Linked DNA regions of Homo sapiens: regions 1 and 2 are each linked to region 3. The links come from fine-mapping of genetic effects on gene expression. A gene starts in region 3. Each other region holds a variant in brackets. All regions are shown on one strand. Distances are from middle to middle.

Region 1 (2,760 bases), 110 kb after region 3:
ATACCATCACTAAGTTAACTAAGACAGATAAACAACGAAAGGAAGATTTTAAAAGGCCTTAGAAACTCAGAGTTTTTCTGCTCCCCTGGTACCACCACCTCTCTCTCCTCTCTACCCTTCCCTTTCTGAAAACCCCACTCAATCCTGATACTTCCTCCCCTACTACCCTCCCAGCTTCTGATCCCCATCCTCAACCTATAAAAACTTGTCCCTGTAGGGTTAGACCCACTAACAATCCTGAGGTTCCTTAGATTGTCTATGCCCTTGGAATAAGGCTGAAATCCATGTTAAAGCCAAGGAATTTCCTAAAGTTACCCAGGACCCTCTTTGCTTTGCTGATGAATTTAACATTACAATTGAAGCTTACTAGCCCAGCTTCTCTGATCTTAATCAACTTGTCCACATGCTTGTGGGAGAAAGCCAGGCTAATCACTGGATGAAAAAGGTCAGTTGTGGCTGGGTATGGTGGCTCACGCCTGTAATCCCCACAATTTGGGAGGCTGAGGTGGGCAGATTACCTGAGGTCAGGAGATCGAGACCAGCCTGGCCAACAGGGCGAAACTCCGTCTCTACTAAAAATACAAAAATTAGCCAGGCCTGGTGGCACACATCTATAATCTCAGCTACTCAGGAAGCTGAGGGAGAGTCATTTGAACCCAGGAGGCGGAGGTTGCAGTGAGCCGAGGTCACTCCATTGCACTCCAGCCTGGGTGATAAAGTGAGACCCTGCCTTAAAAAAAAAAAAAAAAAAAGGAAAGAAAGAAGAAAAAGGTCAATTGCACACACCCTGTATTAGTCTGTTTTCATGCTGCTGATAAAGACATACCCAAGAAGGGGCAATTTACAAAAGAAAGAGGTTTAATTGGCCTTTGGCCTTACAGTTCCACATGGCTGGGGAAGCCTCACAATCATGGTGGAAGGCAAGGAGGAGCAAGACCCATCTTACATGGATGGCAGCAGGCAAAGAGAATGAGGAAGATGCAAAAGTGGAAACCCCTGATAAAACCATCAGATCTTGTGAGACTTATTCTCTACCACAAGAACAGTATGGGGGAAACCATCCCCGTGATTCAATTGTCTCCCACTGGGTCCCTCCACAACATGTGGGAATTATGGAAGTATAATTCAAGATGAGATTTGGGTGGGGACACAGAGCCAAATTATATCATTTTGCCCCTGGCCCTTGTCAAATCTCATATCCTCACATTTCAAAACCAATCATGCCTTCCCAGGAGTCCCCCAAAGTCTTAACTCATTTCATCTTTAACTCAAAAGGCCATGGTCCAAAGTCTCATCTGAGACAATGCAAGTCCCTTCTGCCTATGAGCCTGTAAAATCAAAAGCAAGTTAGTTATTTCCTAGAAACAATGGGAATACAGACATTGGGTAAATACACCTATTCCAAATAGGAGAAATTGGCCAAAACAAAAGGACTACAGGGCCCATGCAAGTTTGAAATCCAGTGGGGCAGTCAAATCTTAAAGCTCCAGAATGATCTCCTTTGACTCCATGTCTCATATCCAGGTCATGCTGATGCAAGAGGTAGGTTCCCATGGTCTTGGGCAGCTC[C/T]ACCCCTGTGGCTTTGCAGATTACAACCTCCCTCCCGGCTACTTTCATGGGCTGGTGTTGAGTGTCTGCGGCTTTTCCAGGTGCATGGTGCAAGTTGTCGGTAGATCTACAATTCTAGGATCTGGAGGACAGTGGCCCTCCTCTCACAGCTCCACTAAGCAATGCCCTAAGCAGTGCCCCAGTAGGTGTAGGGGCTCCAACCCCACCTTTCCCTTCTGCATTGCCCTAGCAGAGGTTCTCCATGAGACCCCTGCCCCTGCAGCAAACTTCTGCCTGGGCTTCCAGGCATTTCCATACATATTCTGAAATCTAGGTAAAGGTTCCCAAACCTCAATTCTTGACTTCTGTGCACCCTCAGGCTCAACACCACATGGAAGCTGCCAAGACTTGGGGTTGGCCATCTGAAGCCATGGCCTGAGCTCTATGTTGGCCCTTTCAGCCATGGCTGGAGTGGCTGGGATGCAGGGCACCAAGTCCCTAGGTTGCACACAGCTTGGGGACCCTGGACCCAGCCCATGAAACCACTTTATCCTCCTAGGCCTCCAAGCCTGTGATGAGAGTGGCTGCCATGAAGACCTCTGACATGCCCTGGAGACATTTTCTCCATTGTCTTGGGAATTAACATTTGGCTCCTGGTTACTTAGGCAAATTTCTGTCGTTGGCTTGAATTTCTTTTCAGAAAATGGTATTTTCTTTCCTATTGCATTGTCAGGCTGCAAATTTTTCAAACTTTTATGCTCTGTTTCTCCTTTAAAACTGAATGCCTTTAACAGCACCCAAGTCACATCTTGAATGCTTTGCTGCTTAGAAGTTTCTTCCACCAGACACCCTAAATCATCTCTCTCAAGTTCAAAGTTCCACAAATCTCTAAGGCAGGGGCAAAATGCCACCAGTGTCTTTGCTAAAATATAACAAGAATCACCTTTACTCCAGTTCCCAACAAGTTCCTCACCTCCATCTGAGACCACCTGAATCTGGATCTTATTGTCCATATTGCTATCAGCATTTTGGGAAAAGCCATTCAACAAGTATCCAGGAAGTTCCCAACTTTTCCACATTTTCCTGTCTTCTGAGCCCTCCAAACTGTTCCAATCTCTGCCTGTTACCCAGTTCCAAAGTTGCTTCCACATTTTCAGGTATCTTCTCAGCAGTATCTCACCCTGGTACCAATTTACTATATTAGTCCATTTT
Region 2 (2,760 bases), 29 kb after region 3:
ACCCAGAGGTTATGGGTGTGATGGAGCTATGCACGTCTCTTCTTCAATTTCTCTGATACTCTCCAGTCCACAATTTGTTGTAATATATAGTCACTGAGTCTCAATTCCAATCACCATCCTTTCTTTGAACAGCTTTTCTCCAAAGCCCATCTATAGGGCTAGAAACAGAGAAAGGTTTCTGGGAGGAAAGAGGGAGAGAATATGGTAAAGTAATAGCACTATGGAGCAAGTAGAGTTGGGGCACCCAATGAAAAGGTAGACACAAAGGCTGTGCACAAAGGACCACCATTTCCTGATCTCTGGCCTGTCTCCGCCTCTCAGGTCCCTGGACTCCAGAGACTCAGCTACATGTTTCCTTAGGCATCTCTCCTTGCTCTTGTGCCAAACCCTCTCCTCTAGCACATCTCATATTCCACCACTTTCCAAGGCTGAGTGTGTACCTCCAACCCAGGGGTAGCTAATAGAGGTGGAGAGCTCATCAGGCAAGGCACTCTGTCTGCTCTTAAATCCCACAACCCCATTCCCTGGCACACACCCAGTCCGCGCTCCTCTGTCCACACGAGTGTGCTCTCTTTGCTTCTATACTGGGAGTCATCAAAAAACTTATTTCCTGATCCCAATCTGTTGGGAAAGATTTCTAAACATTTTTCTATCATTTTCCTTTTCCTGGAAAAGTCCCACTATACAGTAAGTTCCAGAAGGACAGGGACTATATCTTATTTGTCTTTATTTTTTGGAAAGCACCTAGCATACTGCCTGGCCCATAGGTACTCAATAAATGCTTGCTGAATAAATCAGTGGGTGAATGAGAGAAAGAAAGGGAGAAGGAAGGAAAAAGAAAGAGAAAGGAAGAAAGGAAAGAAAAGAAAGAAAGAAAGAAAGAAAGAGAGAGAAAGAAAGAGAGAAAGAAAGAAAGAAAGAAAGAAAGAAAGAAAGAAAGAAAGAAAGAAAGAAAGAAAAAGAAAATGTCCACAAAGAAAGAGCCTATATTTTAGAATGAGAATTAAGATCGCAAATCTTAACTCTAGGGCATAACTCTAGGGCATATTTCTTTTCCACAAATAACACAAATGGAGCAATGCAATGTATACAGTTTATGTGGTTTATGCCTTGTGCAAAGGTGCCTGACAAAAGGCTGATGAGGCTGA[C/A]ATCCAAGCTAAGTTCTGAACCCTAGCATGAGGCTGCATCTGCCTGGAACAAAAGGCAAAGTTTTATAATTTACACAAAGACTGCATATGTGCTGGCGGAAGGGCTGGCAACTTTGGAATTGTGTCCTCCCTATGCTCCAAGTACTGTGTAATAAACTCCTCATATGAGCCCTTCTCTAGTTTTGATTTCTTTTCTGGGTTTGAGATTAATAGAGGTTTCCATGACAATGAATATCCACTTGGCAGGTAATTTTTCCATTCTTTTTTGGCCCCCTGTCTAGGGTTTTAGGAACAAAGCCTTCCTGGATTGACACATTTATTAGAACCCTTCTGCGTGCAACGAATGCTAATGTGATTGCCGTGGACTGGATTTATGGGTCTACAGGAGTCTACTTCTCAGCTGTGAAAAATGTGATTAAGTTGAGCCTCGAGATCTCCCTTTTCCTCAATAAACTCCTGGTAGGTGCAGAAGAGCTTAGGGTGAGTTTGGGCTGCGTATGAGGAGAGAGGGTCAGAAAGACAAAAGCACTGCCTGAGGAGGCTTAGGGTGGAAGCAGAGTCACCAGGTAGCTCGGTGGTCTTGGGTTCAAATCTTGACTTTGCCACTCACAGCACTGACCTCGGGCAGCTTATTGAATATTCTGAGCTTCCCACTGCTCCTCTGTAAAATGTGTCGTGGCACTTTAGACAGCGAATGCAGATGGCCTGGCACTTAGTTGTCCCTCAAGAGAGAATGGCCATGGTCGTTACTCACATACTTTGGGCACCAAAAGGAGAGTAAGGGGGTTGTCAGGGTGGGGAGCCCAGGAAGAGAAAAAGTGATTAACAATGAGAGTGCTGTCCTTTTTCCCTCCAAAGTAAGTGTGGTGGGTGTGTCATGCCCAGGGCCTCGGCTTCTGAAGCTTTGGGGGAAAGCCTGCCACTGTGAAGCCAGCAGACTCTGTGGCCCACGGGGAACTCACTGTTCCTGCTCTTCTAGGTGCTGGGTGTGTCGGAATCCTCAATCCACATCATTGGTGTTAGCCTGGGGGCCCACGTTGGGGGCATGGTGGGACAGCTCTTCGGAGGCCAGCTGGGACAGATCACAGGTAACATTCCTCCCTGCCCATCCTCCAGGCTTTAGAGATAGAGAAAGCTTGCCCTGAAAATATCTCTTCTAAAGCAAGCAGAGGGGAGTACAGAGCCTTTGTTCTCACGATCAAGTCACCTATTACCACTAAAATTTATTTATTGTGGTTCTTTTGCATAAAATGGTATTGTGTTATTATTGCATGATTTCTAATATCAATGTGAGAGGCCATGTATTTCTTCTTTTACTTTTTATTTTTAAGTTTCTTATTTAAAAAAACTTTTAGATTCAGGATTTACGTGTGCAGGTTTATTACATGGGTGTAGCATGTGATGCTGAGGTTCAGGTTTCTAATGATCTCATTGCCCAAGTAGCAATCAGTACTTGATAGGTAGTTTTGCAACCCTTGTCCCTTGCTTTTCCTCCCCCTTTTGAAATCCCCAGTGTCAATTGTTCCCATCTTTGTGTCCATGTGCACCCAATGTTTAGCTCCCACTTATAAGTGAAAACATGCGGTATTTGGTTTTTTGTTTCTGCATTAAT
Region 3 (2,760 bases):
TATCCCATAAGCACTCCTAAAATTCCATCTTTGGAAAGGCACATTTGAGGCCTGTTCTCCAGTCTCCTGTCTTGGCTGCCTTGTGAATACACCCTTTCTCTACTGCAAAACTTGTGCGCCTCAGTGATTGGCATACTGTGTGAAAGACAAATGAGCCTGGTTCCCTGACAGGAGCTGAGCTGTCTCTTCCTGCATGCAGCCAGCAATAAAGATTCCTCTAGGAGAGGTATGTTCTCCACGCCAGAGCGAGAAAATAGCTCTCATCACCAGAGATTTGGAACTGGAGGTGGCATTTGGACTGGAGTAAACATTCTTGCAAAGTAACCATTATCTTCCACCTGTTTTACACCCCACCCCCCATATATCTCCTAGGGGCTCCCCTAGAAATTTTTTACCACCCTAGCCGGATTTTCTTTGTCCTGTCACTTCTTCTTAAATTTATCACTCTTTTTCTAAAAAGTATAAAAGCATCTTGCTTTGGACACTTTCTTCAGGATTCAGTCTCTTAACATCCCCATGTACATGTAAAATTAATAAAATTTGTATACTTTTCTCTTGTTAATCTGCCTAGTGTCAATTTGGCTTCTAGATGCAGCTGATTAGCTCACTAAGAGCTAGAGGGTGTAGGGGGTTGGAGGTGATCTCTGCCTCCCTTATTGGTGAACTTGATTTTTGTAAACACTCAAAAGTCACTTAGGCTAGAGTTGGAGATGGAGATGGTTATTCACTGGGAAGGCCACAAGAGAATGTTTTAAAGTGATGGAAATATTTCATATCTCGATTATGGTGTAAGGACATTTCATTATATATAAATTATATATCAATTTTTTAAAAAGCTCTCAGACCAAGGCTAGTCATTACAGCAAGAAAATAGGCATAGCAAATTTAAAACTTTGGAGAAATATATAGAATATTTGCATATGGTGATTCTGATTTGCTTTAAAAGTGACATGATTAATGTATTTAGACAAAAATACTCTTCGTTTTTCTTTGCTTTTATTTACGATCAGGATACAAGAATTCTACGCTGCTGCCAAATAAATGACTAGTTAAAATTAACTAACTGAATCCTTAACAACCATTCTAAGAGGCAGATATTATTATCCCACTTTATGCGTGAGGGCCCAGAACCCTGGCAAGGGCGGCACACTCAGTACGCTCTTCAAGCATCTGGGCACACCCGGTCCACTACAGTCCTACAAAGTCGGACGTGAGCACGGGCGAAGGCGTCAGCCGGGGCCACACGGGAGTCACTGACCACAGCCAGGCGAGAGCCGGCTTTCCGGTGCCGCCACATTCCGGGCACCAGGCTCCGGGCTCTTCAGAGCATTTGGGGCGGGCGACGGAGGTCCCGTCCACTCTCGCTTGGGTGCAGAAGGGCGCGGCGGTGCCAGGAAGCCGCCTTGGAGGCTCCAAGATTAGCTCACTCAGCGCGGCCAAGCGCAGGTGCGGGGGCCCTCGCCGCCACCCTGCTTATCTGGGGACAGTCCCGGAACCCGGTGACCCGGCTCCGCCCCAACCCGCGCCCTCGTCCACCCGCAGCAGCCAAGGCCTCTTCCCCGGCCCCGGGAGCCCGCGCCACGCCCGTCGCTCGCGCGTTCCAGTCCAGGCTACAGCAGGTATCGCGATCCCGGCCCTCGGCCCCGCGCTCCCCTCCCCCGCCCCTGGCGCTCTCCGAGTGTGGCCGACCATGAGGATTCCCAGTCTTGCAAATCGTGGGAGCGTGTCAACCGCCCCGTTTCTTTCCAAAGCCGGGCATGGCCCGGAAGCAGCTGATCAGATCTTAGTTCTGAATGTATAGTTCGGGTACGAGAATGTGACCCGTGAAAGTTCAGAGGAGTTAAGTAATTACAGCGTTCTGAAAGCGAACGTTAAAGGGAATTTACAACCGAAAAAAGATGCCGGTCTTCTTCCCCCATCCCAGCTTGCAATTCACAGAAGCACACATTAGGGTGGAGCCAGAAGGAATTACGGAAAGGACAATGAGGACATTGAGAGGGAGGGTATGGGGGGTTAAAGTTAGTCCTCCGAGGCCAAGAAGCAGAGTGTCTTGGCCTAGTGTCTGAAAATCGCAGCGCAGGACGGAACTTCCGAGAGCCTATACCTCCCCACTTCCCCCTCCAGTTTACAGATGGGCAAACCGCTGTCCCGGGTGTCTGTCAGGTCTAGTAGCCCAGAATCTCAGTGCCTAGGCTTCACTGTAAATAATAAACTATGTAAATAACATTTACAAATATCCTTTGTGAGCTCAGAAACTCAGCATTACCAGTAACTGGGTAGTGGAACGCATCCATCTTCGTCGTTTACTCCTTCTCCAGGGGCTCTCCAGCCTGCATTCCATGGCCAACAGCAGTGCAGCTGCAGAAGCACTTCTGGAAGCCTCCTGACTTGAACTAGACCTTGGGTAAATAGGGTTTAGATAAGTGGAGGGGAGGGAAAAGTTTCACCTGAGGGGAGAATGAGCTAGTCTGCCAGACCCTTATAAAAGTATTGGCCTGGATGGGATGGAGGGCTTTGACCTGAAAGCCACAGGGAGAAGGGAACCCTGAGGAATTGGCTGAAAGAGGGGGGTTCTTAGGAAATGCACCAACAGGGAAGCCAGCGCTTTACCAGGGATTTCATTCATGGTGGGTATATTATTAATAGAGATTCGAATTCTCTAGAAGCTGATCATTTCTAAGAGAAACAATATTTAAACATTACTGTCGAAGGAAAGGTTGTGGGGAGAAAATGTTCTAGTTCTAAAACAGAACACCCATT

Evidence for each region. PIP is the estimated chance that this variant, and not a neighbour inherited with it, causes the effect.
Region 1: its variant is fine-mapped to the expression of ADPRH in whole blood (INTERVAL, PIP above 0.99).
Region 2: its variant is fine-mapped to the expression of ADPRH in whole blood (INTERVAL, PIP 0.92).

Annotation. Positions count from the first base shown.
Region 1 is chr3:119,684,955-119,687,714 of GRCh38, forward strand. No RefSeq gene overlaps it. Among named protein-coding and RNA genes, the nearest start is that of COX17, 8.9 kb to the left of the region's middle. The variant C/T (reference allele first, on the strand shown) is at 1,570.
Region 2 is chr3:119,607,341-119,610,100 of GRCh38, forward strand. PLA1A (phospholipase A1 member A) reads left to right here. Exons shown (of 11, transcript NM_015900.4): 3 at 1,430-1,607; 4 at 2,128-2,236. Among named protein-coding and RNA genes, the nearest start is that of PLA1A, 11 kb to the left of the region's middle. The variant C/A (reference allele first, on the strand shown) is at 1,149.
Region 3 is chr3:119,578,233-119,580,992 of GRCh38, forward strand. ADPRH (ADP-ribosylarginine hydrolase) reads left to right here and starts at 1,260. Exons shown (of 5, transcript NM_001125.4): 1 at 1,260-1,619; 2 at 2,319-2,404. RefSeq lists enhancers at 864-1,365, 1,150-1,249, 2,190-2,409 and a silencer at 1,430-1,569.